3 linked regions of the Homo sapiens genome follow. The protein of the gene in region 3 interacts with the protein of the main gene of each other region in a pairwise test. Each region holds a gene or a part of one and is shown on either strand. Other genes may lie near its edges. The genes, in order: FAM118B, FES and ZNF746.

The links.
Region 1: the proteins of ZNF746 (region 3) and FAM118B interact in a two-hybrid assay, tested with the Homo sapiens proteins (one large-scale study listed by BioGRID and IntAct).
Region 2: the proteins of ZNF746 (region 3) and FES interact in a two-hybrid assay, tested with the Homo sapiens proteins (one large-scale study listed by BioGRID and IntAct).

What each region holds. Positions count from the first base shown.
Region 1 is NC_000011.10:126,256,632-126,260,124, reverse strand, and holds part of FAM118B (protein FAM118B), read right to left. Parts: coding exon 3,273-3,493; coding exon of another isoform or gene 3,255-3,272; intron 1-3,254. UniProt on the Homo sapiens protein: May play a role in Cajal bodies formation.
Region 2 is NC_000015.10:90,890,856-90,894,505, reverse strand, and holds part of FES (tyrosine-protein kinase Fes/Fps), read right to left. Parts: intron 3,525-3,650; coding exon 3,315-3,524; intron 2,953-3,314; coding exon 2,830-2,952; intron 2,449-2,829; coding exon 2,395-2,448; intron 1,800-2,394; coding exon 1,681-1,799; intron 1,407-1,680; coding exon 1,312-1,406; intron 1,216-1,311; coding exon 1,092-1,215; intron 853-1,091; coding exon 695-852; intron 571-694; coding exon 448-570; intron 1-447. UniProt on the Homo sapiens protein: Tyrosine-protein kinase that acts downstream of cell surface receptors and plays a role in the regulation of the actin cytoskeleton, microtubule assembly, cell attachment and cell spreading.
Region 3 is NC_000007.14:149,473,717-149,477,366, reverse strand, and holds part of ZNF746 (zinc finger protein 746), read left to right. Parts: intron 1-319; coding exon 320-445; intron 446-1,883; coding exon 1,884-2,983; 3' UTR 2,984-3,650.

The sequences.
Region 1 (3,493 bases), on a different chromosome or scaffold from region 3:
GGGAGGTCAAGGCTGTGGTGAGCCATGACTGTGCCATTGTACTGCAGCCTGGGTGAAAAAGCAAGACCCTGTATCAAAAATAGTAATAATAATAAAATAAAAATAAAGCTGGCACAGTGGCTCACGCCTGTAATCCCAGCACTTTGGGAGGCTGAGGTGGGTGGATCACGAGGTCAGGAGATCGAGACCATCCTGGCTAACACAGTGAAACGCTGTATCTACTAAAAATACAAAAAATTAGCCGGGTGTGGTGGCGGGCGCCTTTAGTCCCAGCTACTCGGGAGACTGAGGCAGGAGAATGGCGTGAACCCAGGAGGCAGAGCTTGCAGTGAGCTGAGATTGCGCCACTGCACTCTAGCCTGGGTGACAGAGAGAAACTCCATCTCAAATCAATAAATAGGCCCGGGCATGGTGGCTCACGCCTGTAATCCCAGCACTTTGGGAGGCCAGGGCGGGTGGATCATGAGGTCAGGAGACCGAGACCATCCTGGCCAACATGGTGAAACCCCATCTCTACTAAAAATACAAAAAATTAGCCGGGCATGGTGGTGGGCGCCTATAGTTCCAGCCACTCAGGAGGCTGAGGCAGGAGAATCACTTGAACCCAGGAGGCGGGGGTTGCAGTGAGCCGAGATTGTGCCACTGCACTCCAGCCTGGCGTCAGAGCGAGACTCCATCTCAAAAAAAAAAAAAAAAAAAGTACCACAACGACTGCTTGTATGGTAATGGATTATAAGAATTATTTTTCTTTTTCCCACTGCTTGATTTTTCCAAAATATGTGTAACTACATACTATAGAATCCTTTGAAGACAATTAATTTCCACTATGCAAAAGTGAGTATACAGCACAATGCCAGGCACATAGCAAAGGTTCAGTGTTAAAAAACAAAATAACAGCAAAAGACCTGTAACCTCTCATTAGTCTATATCTACAGAGACTCAAAACATTATGCAAGGGTGAAAGATAAGGTTGACTCGTTTCAAAATGAAATGATGTTTTAACCTGAAACTGCTCTACTACATTTCACATGACAAACTCAGCTGACCATTCCCATAAAGCACTCTGGCCATACTGAAAATCCTTGATTTTGTTTAAAGATACAGAACACCTTAATGATGGGTAACTTCGGGGAAAGCTACTCTGGTAGGAAGCCTACACAGCTAATAAAAGAATTTGTGCCATTCCACAATAGCAGTTAAGGTTCCTTAGAGCAATCTTAGTGCACTAAGGAACCTTACTGCTTCTTTGTTATGTAATGCAACAGTCTAAAGACATATTTATTTTTTGCTAAGATTTAGTGCAACAGAAACAGTTATGCAGACGGATTTTGCTGTTTTAAACTTTAGCATCTTTCCTCAGCATATAGATCAAAAGAAATATGTAGAACTTGGATATGTATGTCTTGTTAATGAAAACAACATGTGCAACAGAAAAGCCTTCTCAAAGTCTCAAGTGTGGGCAAACAACAGCAGGAGAGTCTAGAACACTGCAGGACACCAGAAAAACTCATTTCCAACAAAGAATAGTAAATAGTTTTCACAAATGAGACTTGTTCATGTGGTGATGGCTTTTAAAAGTCTGGTTCCATCAAAGCATAGCCATGGAAGAAGCTGTGTAATTTTTCATTACAGGAGAATTCTACTTGAAGCCATCTGATTCAGTTAAGAAATCTGGGGATGATTTGATTTAGGAAAACTGCTTTATGTTTATTAAATTACCTGTATGTTATTTATTTTAGAAACAGCGTCTTGCTTTATTGCTCAGACTGTAGGGCAGTGATGCAATCATAGCTCACTGCAGACTCCAACTCCTGGGCTCAAGTGATCCTCCTGCCTCAACCTCCCAAGCAGCTGGACTACAGGTGTGTGCCACCACACCTGGCTAATTTTTTGCAGAGACAGGTTCTCACTATGTTGCTCACACTCATCTTGAACTCCTGGCCTCAAGTGATCCTCCCACCTGGGCCTCCCACAGTGTTGGGATTACAGGACAAATTACCTGTACTTTTGCCCTCCTAAGATGCATTCAGGTTGACAATGAAAATACTTACATAAGTTTTCAGGAAATATTCTGTGCACAACAGCCAAGTTTTTTTGGAATTAGATGGATGAGTCACACTAGCCATACTCTGGAGCCTGGCAATGTGAGGTTTTGAAAAAGCATTCTTCAGTTTAGCTGATACCAAAAATGTTTGTGTTTTGTGCGGTTACTGGGAATTTGCCTGCAGCCACTAATCAGCTGAATCTTTAATCACCATTTTGCTCTTTATTGTTAGAATGTGGAGGTAAAATATCAAGTGTATGATACCCCTATCCTCTGACTTGAATATCACCATTATCCGTTTCCAAATAGCATTTCTAAAAGTAAGTTTTCTGTTTGTAAATATAATACATAATCATCATAGAAAATGCCAATACAGAAACCAAAAAATCAACACTTTAAATCCTACTAAAGATAGCCACTTAATTTAGTAAACATTCCAGATACATTTCTACACGCACCAAAAAAAAAAAAAAAATGTACAATTCTATATGAATATAGCTGACCATGGTATTTACAACCTGCTTTTTCTTCCTTTACTCATATGTCTCTAACTTTTTTTTTTATGGCAATGAAAACACTTTCCCTTCTATGGTTTCATTGTATTTCATCAATTAAATAAATATTGGCATATCTGTAGAATCTCCACCAATTTTAGGATCCTTCCAATTTTTTGCCACTACATTCAATGGAAATTACATTCCCACGCATGCATCTTTGTACAATTGTGTGATTGTGCAATCATCCAATTATCTCCTTATGAGAAACTTCTAGGATAAATTGTTTTGATGGGATTTCTAGGTCAAAGATTTGAAAATTTTTGTTACATCTTCTAATTTATGGTCATAAAAGTTGTACTAACTTTACCTTTCCACAAATACTCCATGAATAAATTTATTTTCTCACAGCCTTAGCCAAAATTGGGTGATCTTTCTTCGCTATTTTGTAATCTAAATTCAAACTGCATTTCATTGATAACTAGTGAGGCTGAACATCTGTTTTCTTCATTCTTCCTATGTCTATATTGAACTGCTCAAGTATTCCTTTTTGTCTGTCTTCCCATAATCCAAGTGGCACTTTAGTCTAACCTGAAGACTGTGGCCTCCTTTACAATTTGGTCAGTCATTACATTCCTCATCTTGGCAACTATTTTGCCCATCACATCACAAATACACAAAAGGCTGAAGAGCTGTTGTTCTCTGATTCCCCTCAGCTTCAAAATGCATCTTACCTGATGTACCCCTTGTGGAGATCTCACATGTCAGTCGCTTGAAATATTCTGGAAGATCGGCATAGTCATCTCCATAGGAGATGACTTTAATCCCCTTGTCCAGCATGTTTTCTCGAAGCTTTTTGAACTCATCTACGTCTCCTCTCCGAACCAGCATGAAATGTTCTAGGTCAGATTTATGCTTGACAGCCTCCAAGAAAAGGGCCTGGAAAGTGGTGTCA
Region 2 (3,650 bases), on a different chromosome or scaffold from region 3:
TCAAGCAATTCTCCCACCTCAGCCTCCCAAGTAGCTGGGATTACAGGCACGTGCCACCATGCCTGGCTAATTTTTGTATTTTTAGTAGAGATGGGGTTTCACCATGTTGGTCTGGCTGGTCTCAAACTCCTGACCACAGGTGATCCACCTGCCTCGGCCTCCCAAAGTGCTGGGATTACAGGTGTGAGCCACCGTGCCCAGTCTATTTTTGTATTTTTTGTACAGATGGAGTTTCACTGTGTTGTCCAAGCTGATCTTGAACTCCTGGGCTCAAGTGATCCACCCAGCTCAGCCTCCCAAAGTGCTGGGATGACAGGCGTGAGCAACTGGCCAGGTTATTCTTATTCTGCCTGGTGGGAAGGTTGGCATTAAGGGAGTTAGAAGAGTCCGGCTGGAGCATCTGGAAGAGGGTGCAGCCTGAGGCTGCTGTCATCACAGGGTGCTTACCCTTCTCCACAAACTCCCGTGTCTGCTGATTGCTGAGGTTGGGATAGGGGGAGGCCCCCAGGCTGAAGGTCTCCCAGAGCAAGATGCCAAAGCTCCACACGTCGCTTTCGGAGGAGTAGCGGCCTGCAGAGGAGGCGAGGAGGTGAGGCAGCGTGAGTGCACCCTCCCTGGGGCCAGGGCGAGGCAGCCGGCAGGACCCAGGCCTGGCCTCTGGCCATGGAGTCCAGGGTAGACAGGGACTAGGTACCGTAGTTAAGGGCCTCAGGTGCGGTCCACTTCACGGGGACTTGTCTGAGGCCCCCTGAGGCTGCATAGACCCCATCGGCTTCCTCTCGGGACATCCCAAAGTCACTGATCTTCAGGACATTCTTCTCTGTCACCAGGCAGTTCCGAGCAGCCAGGTCCCTGGGTGAGACAGGGCAGGGGCTCATTTGGCCAACAGTCGCCTGCCCAGCCCTGGCTGAACACTCTAGGAAAGCCAAGGACAAAAGCTGCTCCCGGCCCTGGGCACCCCTGTCTACCACAGAGGCCAACTCCCCCTCTGGAGCTGATGCCTGATGGTCCAGCGGGGGGCCCTAGGGGTATAGGTACCTCTTGACTCTGGTCGGGGGTGTTGGCAGGGCCCGTGGCCACCGCCCACTCACCGGTGGATGCAGCACTTGCTCTCCAGGTACTCCATGCCAGCAGCTGCATCCCCCACCATCTGCAGCAGAGTCTTCACCCGCAGGCGGGCCCCCTCCGTGCGGAGGAAGGTCAGGAAGTCGCCCCCTGCAGGTGGGGAGGACCCCTGCTGAGCCTCCTGAGGTAAGGCTGCCACCTGACCAGGCTGCGCGCCCTACCTGGAGCTCAGCGCCCCGCGCTCACCCTGCACAAGCTCCATGACGATGTAGATGGGCTGCTTCTGGGTGCAGACACCAATGAGACGCACGATGTTGGGGTGGCTGTACTGCTTCAGGATCCTGGAGGGCACTGCTGCTCAGGATCTACGTGGCCAGGCCCGCCTCCCCAGGGCCCCCCAGGGATGATGGGAGAAGAGCTTGGCCTCCAAGGCCAGCAGACCCGGACGTGTGACCTGGGGCAGCCTCTACCCTTCGGCACTATAAGGGGGTACTACCCGCAATGGGGGGCCTCGAGGACTAAACACCACCACGGTGGTCAAGCACTTCACACTGTGCCATGCAGTGTAACCTCTGTGTATGCGGGACCCGTGGTGATCATTAGTTTATCACCCACCTCGCTTCCTGTAGAAACTTGGCCTTGAGGTCAGGTGGGAGCGTCTCTCGACAAGACTTCACCGCCACCAGGGTGTTGTCGGCTCGCAGGCGTCCGCTGAACACTTCGCCAAAGTTCCCCTGAAACGGTCTTGGGCTCCTACCACGGCCTTCCCAGTCCCGCAGTTCTCTTCTCCGCTTCCTACCCATTCTGCTTCCTACCCCTGGGTGAGGGGCCCCCGTGTTCGGACCCCTCACCCAGGCTCTCTGGGAGTTTGACCCTCGCTGGGGAACCTAGAGAGCACATGGGGCAGGCAGGGAAAGTTGCCTCCGATGTGCCACCCTTCCTGAGAGAAGTGACATGGAAATCCAAAAATCACTCTCCCTTGGGTTTGAAAAGCATTCTGATTTTTAGGACAGTGACTTCTTCCCTAAACAGGTATCTTATGGCTTACAGTAACAGGGTGTCTCCCTGCGTGCACACAAGAGCTCGATGGGGGCGGCCTGGGTGGGGGTGATGAGGTCAGGGTGCTGGCAGAGCTGTCTGCTGGGAGTTTTCAGGGTAGGTACTGTCCCGTTTCCTGGAGGATGGTGTGTGGTGGGGGCTGGGCAGGGAGTCGGGGTACAAGTGGGGAATCAGATGGGGCAGGGAGGTCTCTGGGTGGTAGGGCAGGGGGCCCAGGCGCGACTCAGGAGAAGTCGCCAGCGACAAGGAGGCCAGCAGAGGCGCACTCACCCGTCCAATCTGCTCACCCAACACCAGGTCCTCATGGTTCAGCACCCACTTGTCCTGGGGAAGAGAGGAGACAGGGGATCAGAAGTCTGAAGAAAAGGGGTGCTGGGCCCTTAGAAGGGCTGTGTCCTCCATTTTTTGGCGCCTCCATATGTGACCAGGGGTGGGACCACGTGGGGAGCACACTGAGATGACTACGGGGTCCAGGCAGGTGCCCTGACCAGGTAAGCACCAACCTGGTGTGTACAGCCCATGGCATAGGAGTGGCCCTGACATTCCAAACCTAGAGCAAGGCTGGCCCTGAGGGTCACTCACTCTGCATCTTGTATGTAGACGGAGGGCCTGGAAAGCCCTTTCTGCTCAGACGCTGGGTGGGCCTGACCCACACTCCCCAAGCCCTGCCACAGGTGGCATGGGCCAGGCTGGGTGCAGGCTCACCTTGGGCACAGCCCTGTGCAGGACAACACCACTCTTCTTGGTGAGGGGCTGCTGGGTGCTCAGTAGGTGGTCGATGAGCAAAGGAATGCTAGGAAAGCCTTCCCCTTCCAGTCGGTACAGGTTCTGCAGGGCAGGGGACCCGGGGTCAGCAGCCTCCATTCTGAGGGGGCGTGAGCCCTGGGAGGGGGAAAGGGAGAGCAGCAGGGGAGAAAGGGCCTGCCCAGGACCAGGGGCAGAGAGACCTCCAGAAAAGATGCCATCTGATGGCACATGACATCCTGCTGCCCCACCAGGGGAGGACTCACACTTAAGCCTCTATTTTGTTGCAGGGACAGGGTGGTCTCTGTGGCCCCTTCCAGCCAGCCCTGCTAGGGAGGCATCCAAGACCTGGCAGCTACCCCCTACCCTGAAAGGCCATTTCCCTTGGGGAAGGGAAGGGAGGGGAAGAGTGAGGCCTGGAAGGCTCGGGTCCCAGCCCCACTCACATCCAAGGACTGGATGATGAAGTGCCGGGGCAGACCATCCCACAGCACCGACAGCACGTACTCCTGCTTGCCCTGGCTCTCCCGCACCAGGAAGTCCCCAGAGTGCACCAGCAGCTCAGCCACCTCTGCCCTCGGGATGGCCCCGTGGTACCACAGCTGCTCATGCAGGGGCTTCTGCACCTCCGGAATGAGCTGCAGCGGTGGAGGGAGCTGGGCAAGGGAGGATCGAGGAGGAGTCACTTAACCACCTTGTTGAAGAGGCCGTGGGGGCAGCCGGGGGTCTCTCTCTCCCCCCTATATGCCCTCAGCCCTTACAACCATGGAGTGGCATGCAGA
Region 3 (3,650 bases):
GGGTGTCTCTCTGGCCCTGTTCCAGTGGCCCCTATATCACCGTGAGGCCGCTTCTCTTGCCCCAGCATTGGGCATTGAAGTCACTGGCTGCCTCTATTCGAGAGGGGCCCGTGGGAAACATACTGATGATGTCTGAGCTTCCCAGTGCCTCAGAAAGGGGGACAAAAGACACTGGGTTCAGAGAGGTTGGGTCCTCGTGCCCACTCAGAAAAGCCCCCAGTGGGGGGACCTCAGAGTTTAGCCTGCTCTCCTCCCCAACAGTCTTCTGTCCTCCCCGTCCGTCCCCTAACCCACCGGCTCTGCTCTCCCCTTACCGCAGGTGTCCATTCCAACTTTTCCACCACCATCCCGCCCACCTCCTGGCAAACGGATCTCCCTCCCCACCATCCCTCTTCAGCATGCTCGGACGGGACCCTGAAGCTCAACACAGCAGCCTCCACGGAAGGTACAGGTGGCGAGAGGAGGAAGGGAAGGGCCATGCTTGCCTGTGGGGAGTACCTCGGTCCAGGCATCCCATTTTCACTGGTGAACTGCTCTGACCTTCCAGCCAACAGACATTAGGGTGTCTGCACTCTTATGACCCTTTGCACATTCTGTTATTTATCTCCTTGCCAAATCATAGGTGTCAGCAGCCCTTCTTGAGGACATCCATGTTTCAGTCTGTTGCTTTTTCATATGGTGTTAAGTGGTCTATTCTAACAAGCCTATCTCTTGAAGGATATACCTCCTCCCCAGCTTAGGAAACTGTGGCTTCTCTCTGGCATGGAGGAAAACAAAATTGAACTGAAACCACTTCTTAGATATTGGTACTACCAAAGACAGGTGTCTGAAGGCCGATTTCAGAAGAACCACCACCAAATTTATCTGTTAGCTTTCTGTTTACTTCTGTTTTGAAGACCAGTCACCTGTTACTATAATAACGTCATATTTTAGCACCCAAAAAACGTGCTAATAGCCAAGATCCCTGATGTGAAACCTCAGAATGTGAAGTTGAAGTACGCTTATATAAAATCAAACACATTCTTTTTTTTTTTTTTTTTTTTTTTTTTTTTTGAGGCGGAGTCTCACTCTGTCCCCCAGGCTTGGAGTGCAGTGGGGCGATCTCTGCTCACTGCACGCTCCGCCTTCCGGGTTCACGCCATTCTCCTGCTCAGCCTCCCAAGTAGCTGGGACTACAGGTGCCCGCCACCACGCCCAGCTAATTTTTCGTATTTTTAGTAGAGACGGCGTTTCACCATGTTAGCCAGGATGGTCTCAATCTCCTGACCTCATGATCCCCCCGCCTTGGCCTCCCAAAGTGCTGGGATTATAGGCGTGAGCCACCGCGCCTGGCCAAACACATTCTTATTCACTAATATTTTTATCATTAGCTGGTGGGTCCATTTATTGAATGCTGCTGCATGTCAAATAGCTCACTAAGGTGCTTTCAGACATGTTGTCTGGTTTAATCCTCACACCTGTGAAGTGGGCATTCACAGATGAGCTGTGGGTTAGAAACTGCCTGCAGCCCACAGCTGGTGTGTGGCCGAGCTGTCTGAACCCCCATTCCCTGCACTGTGGTGGGGCACAGTGCCTGCAGCAGTTCGAATTCCTTTCTGAGGATCAATTCATGCTTAGCCTTAACAGCCAAACTGAAAAATGGAGCCTGGGGAGCAGATATGGTGGCTTGTCCTGTGGTGAAGGTGCCAGAACACTGGTGTCCTCGAGGGGGAGGCAGCCTCACAGCCACCAGGCTGCTCTGCTGAGCTGCCCTCTGGGCTCAGCCACGAGGGCCTGGGTGGAGTTTGTCTGGCCAGGCAGCTGCTGAGCAGGTGATGGTGGCAGATCGTGGCTCGCTCAGCAGTTAAGGGACAGGTCAGTATCTGTCTTTCTGTCTTTCTCAGCAGATGTAAAAATTGTAATAAAAACAGAAGTCCAGGAAGAGGAGGTGGTGGCCACACCCGTACATCCTACTGACCTAGAGGCTCACGGGACCCTGTTTGGACCAGGCCAAGCCACACGGTTCTTCCCTAGTCCTGCCCAGGAAGGAGCCTGGGAAAGCCAGGGCAGCTCCTTCCCCAGCCAGGACCCTGTGCTGGGGCTGCGAGAGCCCGCCCGGCCTGAGAGGGACATGGGTGAGCTCAGTCCTGCTGTGGCCCAGGAGGAGACCCCTCCTGGGGACTGGCTCTTCGGAGGGGTCCGGTGGGGCTGGAATTTCCGGTGTAAACCGCCAGTGGGCCTGAACCCGAGGACGGGGCCCGAGGGGCTTCCTTACTCCTCCCCGGACAACGGAGAGGCCATCTTGGACCCCAGCCAGGCCCCAAGGCCATTCAACGAACCCTGTAAATACCCTGGCCGGACCAAAGGCTTTGGCCACAAGCCAGGGCTGAAGAAGCACCCCGCGGCGCCCCCCGGGGGCCGGCCCTTCACCTGCGCCACGTGTGGGAAGAGCTTCCAGCTGCAAGTCAGCCTGAGCGCGCACCAGCGCAGCTGTGGGGCGCCCGACGGGTCGGGCCCGGGCACAGGCGGTGGCGGCAGCGGCAGTGGCGGCGGCGGTGGCGGCAGCGGTGGGGGCAGCGCACGGGATGGCAGCGCCCTTCGGTGTGGGGAGTGCGGCCGTTGCTTCACGCGCCCCGCGCACCTCATCCGCCATCGCATGCTGCACACCGGCGAGCGGCCCTTCCCCTGCACCGAGTGTGAGAAGCGCTTCACCGAACGCTCCAAGCTCATCGACCACTACCGAACGCACACGGGCGTGCGGCCCTTCACCTGCACCGTCTGCGGCAAAAGCTTCATCCGCAAGGACCACCTCCGCAAGCACCAGCGCAACCATGCAGCGGGCGCCAAGACCCCGGCCCGAGGCCAGCCACTCCCGACGCCGCCCGCACCTCCTGATCCCTTCAAGAGCCCCGCCTCCAAAGGACCTTTGGCCTCCACAGACCTTGTGACCGACTGGACTTGTGGCCTCAGCGTCCTGGGACCCACCGATGGCGGGGACATGTGAGCGCCTCCAGCCCCATAGCCCCTGCCGGCCGCACGTGTAAAAAGCCCCGTGTGCAGGCAGCAGGGCGGCGTGGAAGCTTCAGGCAGACGCGGGACGGGGAGAACCAAATGTCCAAGTTGCTGAACTGATGATCACTGGAGAAAGAGAAACTATCCACCAGGACAGCTGCCACCTCTAAACCAAGTAGAATTCTCTGTGAAATGGGAGCGCCGTAGAATTTTAAGTAATTTAATTGCAAACCTGTTTTGTTTTTTGTTTTTTGTTTTTTTTTAATTCTTGAGGAAAAAGCTGGAAAATAGTAATAGGGCTATTTAAATTTTGTAGGTACTTTTGGTTTTCAGGGCGTGCATTTCTGTCACTATCTCACTGAGTCTGATAGTGTGTTGGAAGGTTGGCCAGTTGGGGACCCCTGGCCCACTGACTCCTGGGGATGGGGTCCTGTGTGTGCCCCTGCTCTGCCCAGTTGGGCTGAGTGGGCCTAGCGCACCAAGCCCCTGGGCAGTGAGGGCCATTGGGTCCCTTGGAGCACACCTCAGTGCAGCAGGAAGGACCCCTCCGGGAGTAGCGGTTGCATTTCCCAGCTTGCCTCTCCTGAAAAGGCCCCCCAAAAGTGCTGGCCCCAACTTTTCTCTATTTTGGGCCATCTGTGGTACCCGTCCCAAGGGCA